Linked DNA regions of Homo sapiens: region 2 is linked to region 1. Evidence: fine-mapped expression QTL. A gene starts in region 1. The other region holds a variant in brackets. All regions are shown on one strand. Distances are from middle to middle.

Evidence for each region.
Region 2: its variant is fine-mapped to the expression of IQCK-AS1 in prefrontal cortex (GTEx, PIP 0.97).

Annotation. Positions count from the first base shown.
Region 1 is chr16:19,764,883-19,767,794 of GRCh38, reverse strand. It overlaps IQCK-AS1 (IQCK antisense RNA 1), which reads left to right and starts at 1,725. Exons shown (of 4, transcript NR_188663.1): 1 at 1,725-1,826. The region is part of intron 6 of IQCK (IQ motif containing K); the gene reads right to left. RefSeq lists enhancers at 1-206, 207-707.
Region 2 is chr16:20,354,643-20,357,554 of GRCh38, reverse strand. It overlaps a transcript of UMOD not described here. Among named protein-coding and RNA genes, the nearest start is that of UMOD, 3.4 kb to the right of the region's middle. The variant T/C (reference allele first, on the strand shown) is at 1,709.

The DNA of each region.
Region 1 (2,912 bases):
GGAAGTGCTCCGTAGAGGAGGGCGTGGTCCCTGGCTAGGGCTTCACCCCCAGGGACCTAGATGAGAACAGCCATTTCCTGCCAAATGTTGCATTTCCCAAGACCACCCTGGCTTGCCACACCCCCCGTCCTGGGCATATAAAAGCCCGAGACCCTAGCGGGCAGACACCCAGGCAGCCAAACGTCGAGAGGAGCACTTCAGCGGAAAAAGATACAAGCAGCTGCTCACGGAGAGGATGTTGAGAGGAGCACACCAGCAGAAGAGCACACGGCAGGCACAGGCACCTGGCAGGACGAGGCTGAGTTTGGCCAGGGCAGTTAGTCGGAGGAAAGCTGTGGCCGCTGAGCAGCCCAACTCCATGGGAAAAACCATGGTGCCCTTCTGGCTCCTCCATCGGCTGAGAGCTACTTCCACTCAATAAAACTTTGCACTCATTCTCCAAGCCCACGTGTGATCTGATTTCTCTGGTACACAAAGGCAAGAACCTGGGATACAGAAATCCCTCTGTCCTCGCAACAAGGTAGAGGGTGAATTGAGCTGGTTAACACAAACCGCCTATAGATGGCAAACTAAGAGAGCACCTGGTAACATATGCCCACTGGGGCTTCAGCTGTAAATTCACCTATAGACACCGCCATCGGGTGGGAGCCCGACAACCTGCCTGCCTGTATGCTCCCCTAGAGGTTTGAGCAGCAGGGCACTGAAAAAGCGAGCCACATCCCCCTGTTGCATGCCCTGCGAGGGGGACAAGGTAATTTTTCCCGTTTCACCTTCTTGGCTCACTGCAACCTCTGCCTCCTGGATTCAAGCAGTTCTCCTGCCTCAGCCTCCCAAGTAGCTGAGATTACAGGCATGTGCCACCACACCTGGCAAATTTTTGTATTTTTAGCGGAGATGGGGTTTTACTGCATTGGCCAGGCTAGTCTCGAACTCCTGACCTCAAGTGACCTACCCACCTCGGCCTCCCAAAGTGCTGCTTTAAAGTTTTGAAACTACTGGACTAAATCAGAGGTTCTCAACCAGAGGCAGTTTTGCCTCATTCCCCTTGGGGACATACGCTAGTGTCTGGAGATATTCTTGATTGTCACAACTGTAGGAGGGTGCTACTGGCATCTAGTGAGTGGAGGCCAGAGATGCTGCAAAACATCCTACAATGCACAGGTCAGCTCCTTACAGCAAAGAATTATCCAGTCCTAAATGTCAATAGTGCCAAGGTTGAGACAACCTGGATTGGATATTTCCCGGCTCCCACCCTTGTTCTCCTTAAGAACTTTGGTTCCTGCTTGCTTCTCTGACTATTCCTACTTGAGACAAGAAGAATGCAGCATTTGAGTTCTTGCCTTGGACCAAATCTGGGCACCAACCAGCTTGGCCGCTGCCCCAGCTGGGCTGGCTCCAGGCCCACCAGGAAGGGCACGTGGATGGTCTCATGCTTCCCCACTTCCCTTTAATGCTTTGTTAACATTTGAATTACAACACTCACTACAGAAACTACAGCAAGTTGTAAACATGTCCCCCCACCCCAAGGGGCCAGGGCCATACTTTATTCATCTCTGTTTTTTCCACAGCACCAAGCTCTGTGCAGTTGAACTGGGTAGGTGTTCGATAGACATTCATTGCATCAAATAGATTAATATCACTTTAATTTTTATCATGCATCTGGGCATCTCTTTGAAAGGTCATGGATGTAGAGAATATAAATGCCCGTTAAAGCAAGAGCTCTTGTGTTTCTGTTCCTGTGGAGTGCAGCTGAAATGACCGCTACTGCTCCTTCACAGTATATTTACATGAGCTTCCTGTGGACATCAGCACCATTTAAAATTAAGGTATTTGTATAATAAATAAAGCTAAGAGGATTCTTATTAGAGAAGTTATCTTATTTTTAAGGTTATTTTTCATTGGTTATTACAAATGGAAAATTTTTTTTCAAGGCAAAGCAGCAACTTGGAGAATGATACTCAAAGAAGCTTGTCTTAGAAAAATATATGTAAATCAATAAATTTTGGGCTATACATTTCATAGCGGATAAAATCAGGCACAGGTTTGAAAGCTAAATAAGAAACAAGGTTTTCCTATGTTTCTCTCCTTTCAATGTGTAATCTTAGATTTAAAAAAAAACTGGTTAATATCTGGGGTTTTTAAAATTCTCAAAATTGCCAGAGTCAGCCAAGGGTCTATTCATCTTGGTATTCTCAAAGAGGGAAGATTTAAGCAAAATATGTGACAACTGAGAGCCGAGAGTCTAAATTTTTTTTTTGAGACAGAGTCTCACTCTGTCCCCGAGGCTGGAGTACAGTGGTGCGATCTCGGCTCACTGCAACCTCTACCACCCGGGTTCAAGCGATACTCCTGCCTCAGCCTCCTGAGTAGCTGGGATTACAGGCACGTGCCACCGTGCCCAGCTAATTTTTTTATTTTTAGTAGAGACGGGGTTTTGCCATGTTGGCCAGGCTGGTCTCGAACTCCTGACCTCAAGTGATCTGCCCACCTCGGCCTCCCAAAGTATTGGGATTACAGGCATAAGCCACCATGCCCGGCCAGATATAAACTGATTTTTTTTTTTTTTTTTTTTTGAGATGGAGTCTCACTCTGTCGCCCAGGCTGGAGTGCAGTGGAGCCATCTGGGCTCACTGCCAGCTCCGCCTCCAGGGTTCACGCCATTCTCCTGCCTCAGCCTCCCGAGTTGCTGGGACTACAGGCGCCCGCCACTATGCCTGGCTAATTTTTTGTATTTTTAGTAGAGACGGGGTTTCACTGTGTTAGCCAGGATGGTCTCGATCTCCTGACCTCGTGATCCGCCGGGCACGGTGGCTCACGCCTGTAATCCCAGCACTTTGGGAGGCTGAGGTGGGCGGATCACGAGGTCAGGAGATCGAGACCATCCCGGCCAACACGGTGAAACCCCGTCTCTA
Region 2 (2,912 bases), 590 kb before region 1:
GCCACACTTCCTGTCTACTCTATGAACAAGCCAAATTCACTCTCTCCTCATGTTCCCTCTGCCTAAATGCACTCCCTTCAAAATACATTTCCCCCAGTTCCTCACATAGCCATGTTCTTTTCTTGGTTCAAATCTCAGCTCACCTGTCACCACCTCCAAAAGGCATTCCTGGAGACTAAAAATTGAAAGCATCTTATTTTGTTGTGCAATGATATATTGCCTGATTCTCCAATTAATATGTAAGCTCCACGAAAGTAGATATATCTATTGTTTTTTTTCTTGCCGTATTCCCTTTGCCTAGAACTCTGCTTGACACATAGTAGATGCTCAATAAATGCTCGTGGATCAATCAAATATTCCATTTTAGGTGAGAAATACATAATTTCATAGTCATCCCAAAAGGCAGAGGTGCTGACAGTGTTGTCCCCAGATCCAAACTGGAATCTGTATTCGTTCCCTATTTTTGATCTGACAAATTAACACTTAAGTGGCTTAAAACAACACAAACTTACTCTCTTAGAGTTCTGGAGGCTAGAAATTAGAAATCAATTCCACTGGACTAAATTCACGAGTTAGTCCCTTTTGGATGAATTCCCTGCTATGCCTTTTCTAGCTTCTGGGAGGCCCCTGCATTCCTTGGTTTATGGTTCTGTCCTAGAATCACTCTGACTTTTCATTTCATCCTTACACCTACTTCCTCTGACTCCTCCTGCATCACTTTTATAGGCACCACTGTGATTGCATCCAGCCTGCCCAGACAACCTCTCCATCTCAGGATCTGTAATCACACTGCACAGTCCCTTTTGCCATAAAAGGCAACACACACAGGTTTGGGGATTCAGAGGTGAACGTATTTGGGGGTCATTATTCAGCCTACCACAGATTTAACTCATGGATTTGTGTCATTCATTTCAGCCAGGCCTTCTCTTGAGAAAAGAAGGGCAGCATTCTTTTAGAAATTGAGGTCTCTAGAAACCACCTGGGTCTCTCCACTCCTCACCTGTCATGTAAGGCAAAGGCTATTTGTGCTTTCTCATACCTCCAGAGACAGCTCCCATGCCCCTCACCCTGAACCTGGCCTGTCCACAACCAGAGGAAGCAGGGAACAGCCTGCGGCTCTGGAACTCACCTGAGCCGAATTCCCCAACAGGAGCAGGTGTTAGTATTCAGGACACGGTGTAAGGCTCACCTGCCTCGGCCTTGAGGTCATGTGGCTGCCAGTTGAAGGAGGGTTACGGGGGGCTGCCTAGACTAGATCATGTGGCATAGAGCCCCTGACAGGCCACGAGCCAGAGAATGGGTGTGCCACCTCCAGGTCCCCCAGGCGTAACTGGAGCCTCAGGAGGTGTGTGCTCAGAGAGGTAGGTGGGACAGGTAATACCCCTCTTTTGGGGGATCTTCTCCCTTGGCTCATTTTTTGCCGCTTTCTGACACACACCAACCTCTCATTCTAAGTTTTTGTGTTCTGTTTGATCAATTTTTCAAAACTCTCCACCCTTTAGTTTCACTCTTTCCAAAACTACCTAAAACCACTTATCCTTCTAAGACCCTGTCATGGCTGAGCATGGAATGTTCTGTAACCCAAGGAATGCAGGTAAATCTGAGTGAGATTTGAGTTTTAGTCTGGATTTAACACTCGCTAGCTGTGTAATCTTGGGGGAGTTACTCCACCTCTCTGAACTTGTCTTCTTCCCTGTGACGTGGGTTG[T/C]TGTGTTTCATTGTTTGAGACAATGGAGGCAAAAGCACTGAGCACAGTGTCTGACCCAAGAGAAGTGCTCAGTGGGTGATTGTTCTCAGCATTATTAAGATCAAGTCTCCTACCCATGTTTGAAAGTTAAGAGAGAAAAGTGTTTCAGGCTGGTTGTGGTGGCTCATGTCTGTAATCCCAGCACTTTGGGAGGCCGAGGCAGGCAGATTACCTGAGGTCAGGAGTTCGAGACCAGCCTGGCCAATGTGTACAAAAAAAACACAAATTAGCCGGGCATGGTGGTATGCACCTGTAATCCCAGCTACTCGGGAGGCTGAGGATTCAAGGATTCAAGAGAATCACTTGAACTTGGGAGGTGGAGGTTGCAGTGAGCCAAGACTGAGCCACTGCACTCCAACCTGGGTGACAGAGCAAGACTCCATTAAAAAAAAAAAAAAGAAGAAGAAAAAGAAAGAAAGAAAGAAGAGTGTTTCAAGAGCGAAGTGCTGAGAGATTAAGGTTCGTTCAAAAACAAATATTTATTGTGCACTGTCCTAGAGGTAAGATAAAGAGAAAAATATTGATTGAATTTGGTAACATGGATGTCTTTGGTGAACTTGATGAGCAACAGAGCAGGAAATTATGGCCACTGACAACTTGTTATACTCACAGATCCCAAGAGAAGGGGACACACCACACTGGGCAGAGGGGCTGAAGGGAGAGGAAGAGCTGCTGGGAAGTACCAGGGTCGGTCAGGAAGCAAAGAGAGCAAGGGAAAAGGCAGGAAAGAGCCTTTATTGTAGTTTCTGCAGGAAGGAATGGGAGAGGCAAGGTAAGCAGATTTAGGATTGGCTTAGTTTGAATAATTTCAGAGACCTCTGGGCCATAGGAGTTGTCTCTAGTTGTCTGGTACCTGGTCCCTTGGGGTGATCTAAAGCAGCAAGTAGTGACCCTAAGTGTAAAAGCCCCAAAAAGGAGGCCAAGGGTTGGGGGTATGTGGTCTGGATTGATTGATTTGCAGTCGGAAAGGCACATTCACAGATAAGTCGTTTTTGATCTCTAGTAATTATTGAGCCCTGGGAGGGGCAGTCCCTCCATGATCAGTAAGGCCCCAAAATGTACAAGCACCAAATACAGAAACTAGAAAGCATGGTGATTACACTTATGAATAGATTCCAACCCAAACTCCCCATTTTCCTGCCCAAGTCTTTGTCAAGAAAACTCC